Homo sapiens: one gene and its partners. The protein of the gene in region 4 purifies or fractionates together with the protein of the main gene of each other region. This does not show direct contact. Each region holds a gene or a part of one and is shown on either strand. Other genes may lie near its edges.

What was found.
Region 1: the proteins of MAP7D2 (region 4) and BEND3 purify together in Homo sapiens (affinity purification with mass spectrometry; 2 studies listed by BioGRID and IntAct, with this or other methods). This does not show direct contact.
Region 2: the proteins of MAP7D2 (region 4) and PIK3C2A purify together in Homo sapiens (affinity purification with mass spectrometry; one large-scale study listed by BioGRID and IntAct). This does not show direct contact.
Region 3: the proteins of MAP7D2 (region 4) and KIF20A purify together in Homo sapiens (affinity purification with mass spectrometry; 2 studies listed by BioGRID and IntAct, with this or other methods). This does not show direct contact.
Region 5: the proteins of MAP7D2 (region 4) and CENPF purify together in Homo sapiens (affinity purification with mass spectrometry; one large-scale study listed by BioGRID and IntAct). This does not show direct contact.

What each region holds. Positions count from the first base shown.
Region 1 is NC_000006.12:107,064,660-107,067,599, forward strand, and holds the end of BEND3 (BEN domain-containing protein 3), read right to left. Parts: 3' UTR 523-2,940; downstream 1-522. UniProt on the Homo sapiens protein: Transcriptional repressor which associates with the NoRC (nucleolar remodeling complex) complex and plays a key role in repressing rDNA transcription.
Region 2 is NC_000011.10:17,117,467-17,120,989, forward strand, and holds part of PIK3C2A (phosphatidylinositol 4-phosphate 3-kinase C2 domain-containing subunit alpha), read right to left. Parts: intron 2,509-3,523; coding exon 2,320-2,508; intron 1,848-2,319; coding exon 1,754-1,847; intron 1,274-1,753; coding exon 1,179-1,273; intron 206-1,178; coding exon 25-205; intron 1-24.
Region 3 is NC_000005.10:138,185,163-138,188,241, reverse strand, and holds the end of KIF20A (kinesin-like protein KIF20A), read right to left. Parts: coding exon 3,045-3,079; intron 2,731-3,044; coding exon 2,532-2,730; intron 2,282-2,531; coding exon 2,190-2,281; intron 1,949-2,189; coding exon 1,811-1,948; intron 1,147-1,810; coding exon 829-1,146; 3' UTR 519-828; downstream 1-518. UniProt on the Homo sapiens protein: Mitotic kinesin required for chromosome passenger complex (CPC)-mediated cytokinesis. Following phosphorylation by PLK1, involved in recruitment of PLK1 to the central spindle. Interacts with guanosine triphosphate (GTP)-bound forms of RAB6A and RAB6B.
Region 4 is NC_000023.11:20,110,393-20,113,915, forward strand, and holds part of MAP7D2 (MAP7 domain-containing protein 2), read right to left. Parts: intron 1-3,523. UniProt on the Homo sapiens protein: Microtubule-stabilizing protein that plays a role in the control of cell motility and neurite outgrowth via direct binding to the microtubule. Acts as a critical cofactor for kinesin transport.
Region 5 is NC_000001.11:214,662,179-214,665,078, forward strand, and holds the end of CENPF (centromere protein F), read left to right. Parts: intron 1-1,412; coding exon 1,413-1,616; 3' UTR 1,617-2,393; downstream 2,394-2,900. UniProt on the Homo sapiens protein: Required for kinetochore function and chromosome segregation in mitosis. Required for kinetochore localization of dynein, LIS1, NDE1 and NDEL1.

The DNA of each region.
Region 1 (2,940 bases), on a different chromosome or scaffold from region 4:
TGGTAGTGTGGGCCTGTAGTCCCAGCTACTTAGGAGTCTGTGGCAGGAAGATCACTTGAGCCCAGGAAGTCGAGGCTGCAGTGAGCCATGATTATACCACTGCACTCTAGCAGGGTTGGGGCGGCGGGAAACTAAAACCCATTTGATCCAAAGTGAAAAAAAAAAAGGCGGTTAAATGAAAATGAAACTCTGCTGGCTTTGCAGGACTGGCCTGGCACCTGACCAGGAAAGGTTAAAAAAGGTCAAACAAGCCTCCCACTACATGGCCAGGAAGTGGTTTGTGGAGAAATGGTTTGGAGGATTTATCTGGCAATTTCTCATTCATTCAGCTGTGGCCAAACTGAAATCCTATGAGCTGTACCCCTGACACGTAGAGTATGGAAGCCCCAGAAGCTGAAATCCCCCGGAATATTCACGTTCTTCCCTGGGAGGTGGGTGAGGAGGCCACGCACAAAGACAAATAGACCAAGACATATTCTGAGAGACCAGTGCTCTAAGAAAATAACATGTTACGAGACCATGTTTTTCTATTTTTATAACATTTTATATAACTCATAAAACAGTGTTTGTATAAAAATTCACACAAAGTTGCTAGAGAGCATACAATTTCCAAAAATGTCCTGGGTTTTTGTTACATTCAGTTTCCTAAGGATGCACTCCAATCTATGGTAAAATGCAGACATGATGCGAGATTTCATTATCTTTGGTAAAACTATTCTCATTATTTTGTCTCCTCACAGTATTAAGTCTGATATCCACTTTGTGCAGGGTCTGCTATTACTAGGATGTCAGAAAAACATTAAGGCTGGATCTACGAGAGGCAAGTATTTCCCAACAGCAGTAATAGCCCCTTGGCCCTCACCCCCACTTCATGTATCTATACAGTCGATCTACACAGCCAGGCGGGGTGCAAGCTCACGACCTCCACTCGGGAGTCTCGAGATCCCCTCTTGACTGGGAAAGAAGCAAACATTTGTGGGGAACGTTGGAAACGGAGGCCATCTCTAAATGAACCCAGTGGTCATGCTGTGGTGTGGTCAGACCAGCAACTTTTACCAATTAAATAGCCAATCTATTCACCACTAAGTAGATCCCATTGGTTGGTTGGTTGATGATTGCTGCTGATGTGGTTCCCCACTCCCCACAAACATAAAAGGAAAGGAAGGTTTGGAGCCAACACCGAAAGGGGAGGGGCACGCTAGCGCAAATGACACCAGACACGACTTTATTCCCTGTCAAACATTTGTTGTCCTGTAGACACAGCCAAGGTGAACTGAAGGGGGATGCGAACACTCAGTACATTCGTGACTATCTTCATACATTCTTTAAAAACTTACAGAGAAATCAATGAAGACTACCACCTACTGTGACTTACTAGTTCATTCAACATCAAAACGTGTCTGTGCTAATCTTTTAGTCCTTGGGATACAAGGCCAAAAAAAAAAAAAAAAAAATCCAAAAAACAAACAACTAAAAACCAAAGAATTTAGATGTGGGGGAAGGAAAGCGACTGCCAACAGGTTTCATGGAACACATTAAATTTTGAAAAAATAAGTATTTTGTACTTCTATTGCTTCATGTAAAAAATTTAAAATAAAAAAATGCCCACTGGAGCCACCTGTATGGATGGAGAAGTGAGGACACCATACAGACAGGGCAAGGACCTGCAGGCGTTTCCTGACGACAGTCCAGAGATGGTGAGAGTTCCCACGTGTGTCCACTTCTCTTCACAGAAAGGGACTGTAAGATTCTGGGGGAAGATGCCCTACACATGTAAGGTATTAAGAAAATCACTGAAATACGGTTTCCAAAAATTGAACATGCTCTGGGTTACAAAGAGACATATTTAATTCCTAGAACCTGTTGATTTCTCTAACAGGGGTAGATGGGAGTTTCAAAAAAATTATTAATAAATGATTGTGCTTCTAAAGTTGCAGGGTCAACATTCCACCCTCTAGAAAGCAGGGCAATTCATGGCTTGGAGTCCTCGTTTACATCCTAGAAACCAGAACAAATTCCATGGGACCTCCCGCCTCCAGCCCCCAACAACCAGCGGTGGGAAGGGGGAGGTGGTGGGAGAGGGCCACAGCTGTCTTTGGGTAGGGTGCGTGTGTGTGCATGCTGTGTGCATGTGCTGGAGAGACTAAGGCATAGAGAAGGGCCCAAGCGAGGGGGGAAAGTGAGTCTCCTGGCTGCTCCAGTCCCTCCTTTCCAGGCACAAAGAAGTTGAACTTGTTATTCGTGTAGGCCCCCTTCATCTCACTTCAGCTTTTAGTAAGCAGTGCGTGTGTGCATGAGTAGCTGTGTAAGACAGAGAGTCATTCAGTCCCTGTGCCTTTCTAAATCTGTTTGCAGTTTCAACAGAAATAATCTGTAAATGACACTTAGGAGCAAATTTACTAGTTAGATCAGCAACTTAACATTGCTTTTAAAATCCTGTATTTTAAAAAATGCTCCTGGGTACAGGCAAAATTATGTCATACAGCCACTGGAACTGAAGTTCTTATCAGCTGAATGAAGAAAATCCAGATTGTTTCTGTTATCTCTGCATTTTAAAGTAGCAAAATATTAAGCCATCCCACAGGGGTTCTATGACTACCCTGTGTGATTCAATAAATTTTCCAGGACTCTGGTATGACACACTGTTTGCATTCGACTGTTTCCTTTCCCTCTTAAGCATTTGGCCCCCAGAGTTAGGTAGGTAAAAGTATCATTTTAAAGGACTTTACCTGTCAGGGGATTTCCCAGTTGGTGCTCCTGGAGAGCATGCAGCTGGCCTGCAGGAGCCTGACATTCCCAGTCGGGAGGGAACGAAGACATGTGCCCCCCAAGGCAGGGGGTGGCCAGGTATAGGACAGCAGGACCTTCTAGAGAGTCCAAGAGGAAAGTTCTGAGTGGACCCTGGGAAGGGACATGTGTACCCCATCTAAAATGGCCTGT
Region 2 (3,523 bases), on a different chromosome or scaffold from region 4:
ATATTACCTTTTATGGGTACATACCTGTCTGGCTGATCCACTAGCCTGCCTTACTTTTTCTGCTACTCCTCCTAAAAGCTGTACAAGTTTCGTCTGTTTTAGAAGTTCTTCTCTAAGTCGTTTTCCTCCTACTGACAGGAGAGCACCCAAAACATGTTCGTATCGGGTACTAAACTGTACATCATGCAGGGCATCTTTGAGAAGCCTAATACAGCAAAATATTTATGTTAGTCACGTCTTGGTTTTTTTTTTTTTTTTTTTTTTTTGAGACGGAGCCTCACTCGTCACCCAGGCTGGAGTGCAGTGGCGCCATCTCGGCTCACTGCAAGCTCTGCCTCCCGGGTTCACGCCATTCTCCTGCCTCAGCCTCCCGAATAGCTGGGACTATAGGCGCCCGCCACCACACCCGGCTAATTTTTTGTATTTTTAGTAGAGATGGGGTTTCACTGTGTTAGCCAGGATGGTCTCGATCTCCTGACCTTGTGATCCGCCCACTTCGGCCTCCCAAAGTGCTGGGATTACAGGCGTGAGCCACCATGCCCGGCCATGTTAGTCACTTCTAAGAACTAGGTGAACCTCTCTGAAAAATAACAAGTTCAATTTTTTTTTCTTTTTTTTTTTTTGAGACCAGGTCTGGCTCTGTTGCCCAGGCTGGAGTCCAGTGGCATGACCTTGCCTCACTGCAACCTCCACCTCCCAGGCTCGAGCAATCCTCCCACCTCAGCATCCCAACTAGCTGGGACCACAGGCACATGCCACCATGTTCGGCTAATTTTTTATATTTTTGGTAGAGATGAGGTTTCACCATGATTGTTAGGCTGGTCTTAAACTCCTGAGATCAAGCGATCCACTAGCTTCAGCCTCCCAAAGTGCTGGGATTACAAGCATGAGCCACCACGCTTGGCCTCAATTTTTGATAACCAGAAATGTATTTTAAGCTATATAAGCAAGTCGAAACCCATTCATTATTACAGAGCTATAAGACACCAAATTTTTGCAATGAGGGTTTTCAAATTTTTGCATTAGAGGGTAAATTTAGCTCCTTTAAAATAATACCTTCAATAAAATATCTTGTATCCACAATAAGTAGTGTGGCATACCATTTAGACTTACAGGGTATGCCATTTCTATAAATTCTAGGAATGGAAATACGGTAATCAATAAAATTTAAATCTTACCAATATAAATTGTGTGCTATCTGGATATTTCCCAATGCCCTGGACAAAAGGAATTGCACTAATGAACTATTCAAGTAAATTTCATATTTCAAAGCCTACAGTAAAAGAAAATAAGAATTATTAGTGGTCTAACCCATACTAAATTGTTCCAATAAAACTATCAAAAGAGAAACTATATAAAGCAAGTATTACTCTTACTGATGAAAGATGATACTTATAAAAATTAAATAGATGAATTAACCTATGCCAAACTAATTTAAATCAAACACAAAAGTATAGAGTAACATTCATTAGCTATGTTGAACTCACCAGTAAAGAAAAATCAAGGAAAAGCTCAAGTCTGGTTTGTTCTAAAAAGTCTGAAAACTAAAAATACAGGTGCCTATATACAATATTCAAATGGGGCAGATGACAATAGTGGGGAAAAAATTCACACTAAATCCAAATGCAATGCCCCTCAATGTTCCCACACTAAAAAACGACTTTTAATCTAAACAGAATGGGGATCCCTTAGCAAGTTCCCATAAAAAACTAGAGTGAAAGTATAAAGGGAGGTAATCTAGTAAAAAACTCACTTGTACAAACTGTGGAAGAAGATCTGTTAGCTCATCATCACTAATGGCCTCAATCCAGGTCACAGCTAGGGATCTTACTTCCTGATCAGCAAATCTAGAAGATTACCATAAAACCAAGATTGGACAGTGATTTCTTTCCAGTGAAGCTGTATTTTTTGAAAACACAATCTCAATCTGGTCCTGACAAAGAACACTAAGATATCTCTTTTATTCAAAAGCAATGTATTTCTTCTTTTTGTAAGAAGACAATCTTATTGTGCTATACAGATTCAATTTAGGGATTATTTAGGAATCTTAAGTTTATGAAAATTAATTCTGGCCCACATCATAAAAATATAAATTATTCAAAATTTACAACCTAACCCTTCCTTTAGGCTAGTTTTAAAGGACATGCAATGCTTTATTGACAACTTCAATGCAGAAGATATGTTTGTATAAATATACATTTACACATTTGGATTATATTGAATTGCTTTCATGTTAAAAGGAAAGGAAATACTTCTGGCAACATACCTTACTGGAAAAACTGACAATAAAACAAGAGCAAATAAATGTATTTGACTTACTTTGAATCAAGAAGTTCCAATGCAATTAGTGGGTACAATGCAGGCCACTGGTGAAGCAATGAGTAAGTTTTGGCAAGATTAACCCATTTCCAGTTTGGGGCGCTTGCTAATATTTTAGGAAGACAATTTGGGTGTTTGAAGCAATAATAACGTTTCTCCCATAAAAAAGCTTTATCTTCTTTAGAAAGTCTGCATATATAATAGAATTAAATTACTTCTCAGTGATAACATAATGATATAATCTCAATGATTAAAAATACAAAGAAGAAATTTATTTATTTGGGACAGCTACTTCTTCATAAAATCATTAATACTAATTTGGAATAGAAAAATGCAATGTATGGCAAATGCCAGTAATTAATGCTAATCCGGGAACTGAAAGGAATGATTATGTCTTGATAAAAGATGCTTAGTTAGGAAAATGAAGGATAATTCAGTATAATAAAAATTTATTGAGCTCTAACTAGATGCCAGGCACTAGAAATCAGAGTTGAAAAAGCAGATCCCACCCTAAGAGATAGCAAGGATTTCATCCATTTCGTACAAATAAAATCAAATGCTATGAAAAAAAAAATACTACTATAAAATTTTGGAACATATTTATACAGTTCAAATGAAAAGGACTTGTTTTGAAGATCCTAATTGTTTTAAGCTTAATCACAAATGTTTACGTGAATGAAATATTTCACCATTTTACTATCCATCCATATATATATAAATATATATATACATATACATGCACTGAAATTTATTCATTTCATGTGGAGTAATGAAAAAATTCAAACACTGCAAAAGGTATACAGTGAAATCTCTCTCCTTCTAATTCCCCTTCTAAGAGGCAACCACCTAAGCTTGTATGCTCTTCTAGAGAGTTTATTCATACAGAGGCACACACACGGATATATGTAGATCCTCTTTTTTCCTTTATTTTCGTGGTAATACACTATATACACTATTCTACTCCTGGTTTTCTTCAGCTAACCTATTTTAAAAATTAGTACATACAGCTATAATCTCATTTTTATTTATTTTATTTTTGTTTGAGATGGAGTCTCGCTCTGTCACCCAGGCTGGAATGCAGTGGCACGATCTTGGCTCACTGCAACCTCCGCCTCCCAGGTTCAAGCGATTCTCCTGCCTCAGCCTCCCAAGTAGCTGGGATTACAGGCATGTGCCACCATCTCAGCCTCCCAAAGTGCTGAGA
Region 3 (3,079 bases), on a different chromosome or scaffold from region 4:
GGATTATAGATAATTTCACGGACATTTGGAAATAACATTGGTGATTATACAGACAAGAATAAACTCACTTCAAGCTGGTCTGTTTTAATAAATTTTCAACGTAATTGTCTATTTTTTTCCCTCCCATCTGCAACAGAATACATTTTTTTCAGCCTTTATCTAGATGAGGTAAAGGGAATCATTCTTATGGTGCTCTTGGAGAGTTTCAGGCCTGTGCATGTGTGTACAGCAGGAGGTAATATGCTATAATGTCTGCTGTAATATATTTGCACAGTAGATGCTATGGATCATTCTGAGCTCAGGGTCCAGACTTTATTCTTATTCCCAGAATTTTGTGTTACGTTTTTACCTCCTAACATATGACACTTCATCTTATATTAAGGAAGGTTTAGAATATCTAATACGACTTGAATTCATTTGTTACTAAGCCTTCTCAGGCAAGCTGTATACTAGTTACTGGTCTCCACTGCCATGCCTTTTCAAGGTTCCCATGGTCCAGAATGATGTTTGATTCTTAATTTTTCTGTCCCTTTTATAATTTGTTTTAATGATTTTGCTACATTTGGAATTCAATAAAAAATGTGAACAATAATATCTTTAATATAACTGTTTTTGTGTGCATAGAAATCATATAAGTAAATAAAAAAAAACAACAACATGAGATTACATAGGTGGTTATAATACAAAAGTGAGAAAAAAGCTAGTGTCTGAGTATTGCATCCTGGATATAATTCCTGATATATGGTAAAGCATAAAAGAGACCTATTTCTTCAGGAGAGTAGCTGACCCACCTCAGGGCCATGACTGCTCTTCTCTTTCCCCACAGCCTTAGTACTTTTTGCCAAAAGGCCCAGATTTGAGTAAAGGGGAACGCCGTGAGCGTAGGATCCGGGCATAAGGGCTGCAGTCTGTTGAGCTTTGGCAGGTTGGTGTTCGGGGAAGTAAATTTCGAAGGAATGGTTTCTTCCCTGGTGGTTGTTGGTTTGGTTGCTGATTTTCCTGGTTGGTACCAAGGCGCTTTTTGGCAGAAACCTGGCCTTGGAGTTTCAACACAGTATGATACTGCTCAGCAATACATGCTGCCTTCTTCCGAAGGTCCAGTTTCACTAGCACCATGTTGTTCTGCAGTTCAGCCAGAGTCTGGTCCTAAGGAAGATCAATAAAGTTATAGAAAACACTTTTGTCTGGTATATTAGAGAAACGAGAGGGCTAAGGGTAATACATACCATCCATTACTAGTTACTAACAACTGTTTCTTCAAAGATTAAAACTCTTTAAGGTCGGAGCTTATAACTGAATAAGGGGACATTTTCTGAGAACAAAACATAAGCAGTGCTGAATAGGACATCTTCTAACACATAAGGTAGTATGAGCTTGAGTAAATTTAATTTCTAAGTGCCTCAGTCTCTAAATGTCAAATTAAATGTTGAGTTTAGTTTAAGATACACAATTTTAACATTTTAATCTCTTTGGAATCAGGATGCATCTTACTGATGAGAAATTGTTACTTTTTTCTTAGTAGTACATAAAATAATGGTTTCTTATAATCAGTAGCATCTTAGATGAAATATGACAGTAACTACCTCCCTAAGGTGGTTGTGACAGAAAATGCCTATAAATTACTTAGCACAGTGCCTGGTACTTAGTAAATGCTTAACAAAGAATAGTTATTTTTATTTTGCAAATATACTGCTCTCACTATAAATTCAGCCTAAAAATCTTTACCTTTTTCTTCTGGTCCTCTTTCCTTTCTCACATATACACTGGAGTGGGCTGGTAGGACAGAAGTGGGTATATAGTTTGCCCTAACCTGTTTGATTAAGATGTCATCACAAGTGGTCAAGGCTTGACGAAGTTTTCCTGCCCCAGTGCTGTGGCAACAAGCTCTCTCTGCTGATTGGAGAGACTCACCAAGTTTCTGAAGCTCTGTCCGCAACAGCCTTATATTCTGAAAAAGGGGAAGTAGGAATCATATTGTGGCCAAGAGCAACCAGGATAATGATCTGGAGGGGTCAGGTAGCCATTTGAAGAGAAGTAAAATTAGAAAGGCTAGTCAGCTGAGTGAAATAGCCACTCTCCAGAACTGTGCACAAAAAACATCTTGTCTTCACATGAACCAGTGATAGAGTGTTGGATGTGGGAAATTGCCTTAGGTAAGAGTTTGGTAAACAGAGAATGGTGGTAATTACCTTCTGGCCCTCTTCTAACTTCTTGTCCACATCAATGGTGAAGGGCTTGGCTGAGGGTGGTGGTTCTAACATTTTCTGATACTTATGCAACTCTGAGGGAAGGAAACAGGAAACTTAAAATATGTGGGGTTTTTTTAGCCTTGGACTAACCTCTTTAACTGAGGTAACAGTAGCTTGCAGCAAATATAAAAAGTGAGGCTATGTGTATCCTAGATTGAAATGTCAGGGGGATGTAGCTTGCAGTTTAGGAAATTATGTTAGAGCAGGAGTTAGAAGGCCTGGGTTTAAGTAACAGCTCTTCCCTGAACCACTGTTATGTTTCCTGCCTGTCTCTTTCCTCACCTTCAGTGGTAGAGTTTAGCTCTGCTTTGCACTGCTGTAATTTAGCTTTAACCTCCTGAAGCTGCTGGGTGGAGGCAGAAGCTGCCAACCTTTGTGACCGCCGTAGGGCCAATTCAGACCCTGATTGCTGATGGGCCACTGACTGTTGTCTGGCTTCCTGCAAGAGAGCTTCTAGCTCTTCAATCTTTTCATCCCGCTCCTAAGAGGGAAGCAGAGAGCACAATTCTTTGCAGAGCCAGAAAAATATTGCTAAGACAGATGACTGAACAAACAAAGCACTTGTGACACTGATCCCTTGAAAACCTGTTGTTAGCACTTAATACGATTTCCTGGCCAACTAAACCCTTAATCAATTCACCAAACATAGATTGAACCCAAAGCACTATGGGGAATAGAGAAAAGGGAGTTATATATTCCTGCCCTTACTGGAGTAGTTTATAAAATCTCTTTACTTCAGGCAAGCTAGTGATGGAAATCTGAGCAGCTAATTGGAGCTGGCTCAGGGCAACTCACCTGAATCTCTTCTTGGTAAAAACTTGTCAGTGACT
Region 4 (3,523 bases):
GCAGGAGAATCACTTGAACCCAGGAAGCGAGGTTGCAGAGAGCAGAGATCGCACCACTGCACTCCAGCCTGGGTGACAGAGCAAGACTCTGTCTCAAAAAAACCAAAACAAAAACAAAAATGAGCCAGACATAGAGGTATATGCCTATAGTCCCAGCTCCTTGGAGGGGTTGAGGTGGGAGGATTGCTTGAACCTGGGAGGTCAAGGCTGCAGTGAGCTGAGATCGTGCCACTGTACTCCAGCCTGGGTGACAAAGTGAGACTCTGTCTCAAAAAAAAAAAAAAAAAAAAAGTATAAGGGAGGATGTGCATAGGTTACACGCAAATACTATACCATTTTATATCAGGGACTTGGGCATCCTTGATTTTTGGTGTTCTTGAGAGGTGCTGGAACAAATCCCCCATGGATACCAAGGAACGACTGTACTTGCCTATTACAGTAGATATTCTCCAAAAGGGCCACTAACAATTTCTCATTTCCCAGTAGGTGCATGCTGCCCTCACATCAACAGGTGGAGTCTATTTCCTCTCCCCTTGAATCTAGGCTGGCCTTGGGACTTGCTTTGACCACTGAACACAGCAAAAATGACATTCTGGGACTTCTATGTGCAGGCCTTAAGAGAACTGGCAACTTCTGCTTCCTTATTCAAAGCACAGCAGCCACGCTGTTAGAAAGTCCAGGACAGACTCTCTGTGATTAGGTACCTGGACAATGAGAGACCATCTTGGACATTTCGAGCCCAACTGAGCTCCCAGCAGACCAGCAGACTGTACCAGCATGAGGGACTCCAGGTGACCCCAAATGGAGCAGCAGAACTTCTCCAATAAGCCCAGGCAACCCCCAGAACTATGAGGGTTGGCACATAAGTGCTCAACAATTAGCGGCCATTACTGTCTGGGAAGCTAAAATGAACATGTGCAGTATATAACTGCAGACCGCTGTGTACATTACATTCAGGTTCTGAGCGCTTTGCAGGCCCTGTGGAGTGGGAATGTACAGGAGGTGAAAAGGCAAGGCTTCAGGGTAAAAGCGCGTCTTAGACCTGAAGGACAGAGTATGCAGAATATTGGTTTCTAAACCTCTAATGCATGAAGACCCACCCACAGACTTCTAGGCAATTGCAACGCGTGTCTGCACCAAAGGCTGAAGACTGTCCCGGCAGAAGTCTCGTGGTCTCTATATAGACAGATGGGTAGTTGTGAGGCCGGGGGAATGAAGAATGTCAGTGAGTATGGGGATTCTTTGTGGGGTGGTGAACATGTTCTAAAATTGATTGTGGTGATGGCTGCACAACTCTGTGAATATACTAAAAACCATCGAATTGTGCATTTTAAATGGGTGGACTATATGGCATATGAATTTTATACAGATGATAAAGCTGTTTATTTTTATTTTTGAGTCAGGCTCTCACTTTGTCACCCAGGCTGGAGTGCAGTGGCACAATCTCAGTTCACTGCAGCCTCGACCTCATGGGCTTAAGCAATCTTCCCGCCTCAGCCCCTAAAGTAGCTGGGACTACAGGTACGTGCCATCACGCCCAGCTAATTTTTCGTATTTTTTGTGGAGACAGGGTTTTGCCATGTTGCCCAGGCTGGTCTTGAACTCCTGAGTGCAAGCGATCTGTGGGCCTCAGCCTCCTGAAGTGCTAGGATTACAGGTGTGAACCACCACGACCAGCCATAAAGCTGTTATTACAGAAACACAGAGGGTGGGACGGATGAAGCGGGTGAGATGACAAAGGAGCAAGGAACATTCCAAAGGGTTGCCTGGGGGCTACAAGGCACCAACCTATTTGGCACTGAGAGGAAAAGCCAAGTCTTTTTAGGTGGTGAACGAACCCAGCACTGGTCAGAAGCTAGGAGCCCTGGGGACAGACCCTGTCATTCCAAGGATCTCAGGCATTTGGCATCACTGCTGTTGCCTCAAATGCTTTGCATGCATGCGGCTCACTCATACCTGTTTTCCTTTCGCTTAAATGACAACCCAAACTCTGCTAGTCACAAGGCTTTTAAAAACAGAAAAAGTTCCTAGGCAAGAGGAAAACAAATGCTTCCCAACAGAAAAGCAGATGGGGGCTTGCATTCAGACTGACCTCAGAGGCAGACGAGGCGGGATCCCAAGGCCTAGTCAGACCCAGAGCCTCAGATGCCAAGACGGTAAACTCCATATTTAAATGCGGCCGACTCAGATGTGAGGTGGACAGTGGACACTCCCTCCCTAAGGGCGGCTGCCCTCTACTACCCCCTCTTCCTTCTTCTGGTGAAATTCCTTTCAAAAGGGACCGGAGGGCAGGGCCATGGGAAGTTTTCAAATCTTGGAACTGCCGCCTGAGCCAACTTAGCACATGAACAGCCCCCTAAAACCAGGCAGTATCATTGTATCACCAGCCAATATATCTCATCAAATCCTCTCAACAAGACCCACCAGGATATTTACCAACAGCCCCCAGAAATCTCCATCTCTCGCCTGCCCAAATCAACCTTGTGAATCCTTCTGTTTTGTAAGGCAATCAATGTAATTACAAGAAGACAAAGTGTTCTTTTAAAACACTAGCCACTGCAGAAGATGGGGCACCTGAGAGGAAAACATCCTTTCATGTTGGAGAGGAAGCAGGTTAGAAATGACAGACTTTGAGCAGCTATGTCACCATGGCTAGGATATGAGAAGAGAAATCACAAAGACTTTCAGCAGTTTGTCCTGAAGGTCCTGCTAAGTCTAAGTCCTATGCTGCCATCAGTAAAAAAAGCCAGGAGCCACAAACCAAATACAACTTTGTAGGAAGTTTGTGGTCCTTCCTACTACCAAAGAGACTCTAGAGGCACAAACTCAACTTGTTCTCTTGTTCTTCTTGATCTGAACACTTTTTTTTTTAAGATCGGAGTCTCACTCTGTCGCCCGGGGTGGAGTGCAGTGGCTCAATCTCTGCTCACTGCAACCTCCGCCTCCCGGGTTCAAGCAATTCCCTGCCTCAGCCTCCCGAGTAGCTGGGATTACAGGTGCCTGCCACCATACCTGGCTAATTTTTGTATTTTTAGTAGAGACAGGGTTTCACCATCTTGGCCGGCCTGGTCTTGAACTCCTGACCTCGTGATCCGCCCGCCTCGGCCTCCCAAAGTGCTGGGATTACAGGCGTGAGCCACCACGCCCAGCGATCTGAACAGTTTTAGGATTAAAGCGTTCAAGAATGGTTTTAAACACAACTTTGAAAAAGGATGAAGAACTCCGATTTCTTGGGGACCCAATGCCTTTGCTACTCGGGCCCACTCTACTTTTTTTTTTATTTTACAATTTTTAATTTTTGTGGCTACATAGTAGGTAGTAGGTGCATATATTTCTGGGGTACATGAGATGTTTTGGTACAGGCATGCAATATGAAATAATCATATCATGCAAAACAGGTTAGCCATCCCCCTCAAGCATTTATCCTTTGTGTTACAAACAATCCAGTCATACTAGTAGTTATTTTTAAATGAACAATTAAATTATTATTGACTATAATTACCCTGTTGTGCTATCAAATACC
Region 5 (2,900 bases), on a different chromosome or scaffold from region 4:
AACCTAAAGATTTGTTTCTTGTACATCTGGTGGGTTCCAGGGAAACCTTGTCTTTGGAATCACTATTTCTCTTTAAAAAAAAAAAAAAGTACCAGCAAAACTTTGTTTTATTTTTTTCCTTCAACTTTCCATGGATGGTAATTTTCCATTAAGTCCTGACCTTCCAAGGCTGCGTCTTTTCAGTGTCCTGGACACACTCTGAGGGAGAAGTGAGCTTTCCTGGGATTTGATCTGTTGGCCAGATTTACTATGTTTCATGTAATGAAAAGTATTTAACTGCCTTTTTCAAATCACATGCTTCCTATGGAAAGAATATAAATGGGAAAATAATTTCCATTCCCTTTTCTTCTTGCATCAGAAGGAGATCCCTGGAAGTCAGTTGCTCAGGGAGTGTCTGTCACGTAGTTACTTCCCAGCAACTGTGCTGGACACAGATCCTTGTGTCCATTATGCAAGAGGCCCTTCTCCTTTCTCTTTGAAAGATCTTCCTACTTGAATCTTCCACTCTTGCCTTTAACTTTGCTTAGGTGAAGCTTTCCTATACTTCATTTTTCTTGCACTTTTTTCTCTTTTTTGACCGTGTATCTTTTTTCACTACTATATAAATTTCAATTTTTTTTTTTTTAAATCTTGCTCTGTCCCCCAGGCTGGAGTGCAGTGGCACTATCACGGCTCACTGCAGCTTCAAACTCCTGGGCTCAAGCGATCCTCTTGCCTCAGCCTCCTGAGTAGCTGGAACTATAGATGTGAGCCACTAAGCCTGACCCAATTTCAAAAAATCTTCACTCACCAGTTACCTTACTCTCTCATCTACTTAAAGTCTCAAATTTTCTGAGATATCTCTTTCCTTTAAAAGGCAGGATGTTTGAGAGGGGATTTATTCTTTCCGGACTTTATTGTTAGATAGCTGCCCTTCTGCTCTAGTCCAAATTCAATATGGAAACAGTCAGCCATAAAGGGAGAATGATTAAAATACCCTGAACTGGTCCTTGGTCATTTTAAAATTTTCCACCCTGTGGAGGTAGTATTACTCATTTGGGTTACACTTGTTTTAAACAACAGGAATGGCTAGTTAGGACAACAGAGGCAGGTTTTTCACTTAGGAATTCACTGGATGTGTACCATGTGGTCAAGCATGTTGTGGGCTCTAGGGATACATAGGTAAATAGGGCATAGTCTTTGCCATCAGAGGTGCCAAGGGACGTCTGATGACTGGTTAGAGGTTGTACCTGGTATCCTCCTAAGTTCTCTGTTAGATGGGGCCTGTTCTCAAGGAAGAGGAAATACTTCAATTATATATAACTCCTAGAGAAGAAGAACTTAATTTAAAACTTAGTGACATAGTGCTTTATTTTTCATGTTGTGGAAATGTGAATGTGATTGAACCTCTAACAGAGATGTTTGTGTTGCAGGTCAAAGTTGCTCAGCGGAGCCCAGTAGATTCAGGCACCATCCTCCGAGAACCCACCACGAAATCCGTCCCAGTCAATAATCTTCCTGAGAGAAGTCCGACTGACAGCCCCAGAGAGGGCCTGAGGGTCAAGCGAGGCCGACTTGTCCCCAGCCCCAAAGCTGGACTGGAGTCCAACGGCAGTGAGAACTGTAAGGTCCAGTGAAGGCACTTTGTGTGTCAGTACCCCTGGGAGGTGCCAGTCATTGAATAGATAAGGCTGTGCCTACAGGACTTCTCTTTAGTCAGGGCATGCTTTATTAGTGAGGAGAAAACAATTCCTTAGAAGTCTTAAATATATTGTACTCTTTAGATCTCCCATGTGTAGGTATTGAAAAAGTTTGGAAGCACTGATCACCTGTTAGCATTGCCATTCCTCTACTGCAATGTAAATAGTATAAAGCTATGTATATAAAGCTTTTTGGTAATATGTTACAATTAAAATGACAAGCACTATATCACAATCTCTGTTTGTATGTGGGTTTTACACTAAAAAAATGCAAAACACATTTTATTCTTCTAATTAACAGCTCCTAGGAAAATGTAGACTTTTGCTTTATGATATTCTATCTGTAGTATGAGGCATGGAATAGTTTTGTATCGGGAATTTCTCAGAGCTGAGTAAAATGAAGGAAAAGCATGTTATGTGTTTTTAAGGAAAATGTGCACACATATACATGTAGGAGTGTTTATCTTTCTCTTACAATCTGTTTTAGACATCTTTGCTTATGAAACCTGTACATATGTGTGTGTGGGTATGTGTTTATTTCCAGTGAGGGCTGCAGGCTTCCTAGAGGTGTGCTATACCATGCGTCTGTCGTTGTGCTTTTTTCTGTTTTTAGACCAATTTTTTACAGTTCTTTGGTAAGCATTGTCGTATCTGGTGATGGATTAACATATAGCCTTTGTTTTCTAATAAAATAGTCGCCTTCGTTTTCTGTAAGAATGATTCCTAAGTGTAAAGGCATTCGAATATTGGTACTATTTCTTGCTAATTACAACAGCCTCTTATACACGTGAAAATGTTTGAACAAATGATACAGATCTTTAAACAAATGATCTTAGCATCTTTAGTTGTATTAAAAGACACAATTTGGAATACGGGTCATAAGGAGTATATGGGAATATAAGACGTCCAGCCCAGTGCCTCCTACATTCTGTGTCCCCATTAAACCACATCATCAAGGATACAAGTATGTGGTATTTCCCAGCTCACTTGATGATGATATAGTTTTGAAAGCATGCAGGCATTATAAGCCATGTCAGATCCAAAAACATTTGAACAAGTTCTTACATCCTTGAATCAGGGTAAAAAAGTTTCCCAGGGCATGCGCTAGTAAAAGATCATTTGTTCTTGGCTTTCAGTCCAAATTGATGCACAAATTCCGATAAGCACCATCATTTATATTTAAAAGTTGTCCTTCGCAAGGTGGCCTCTGTTGTTGGATAA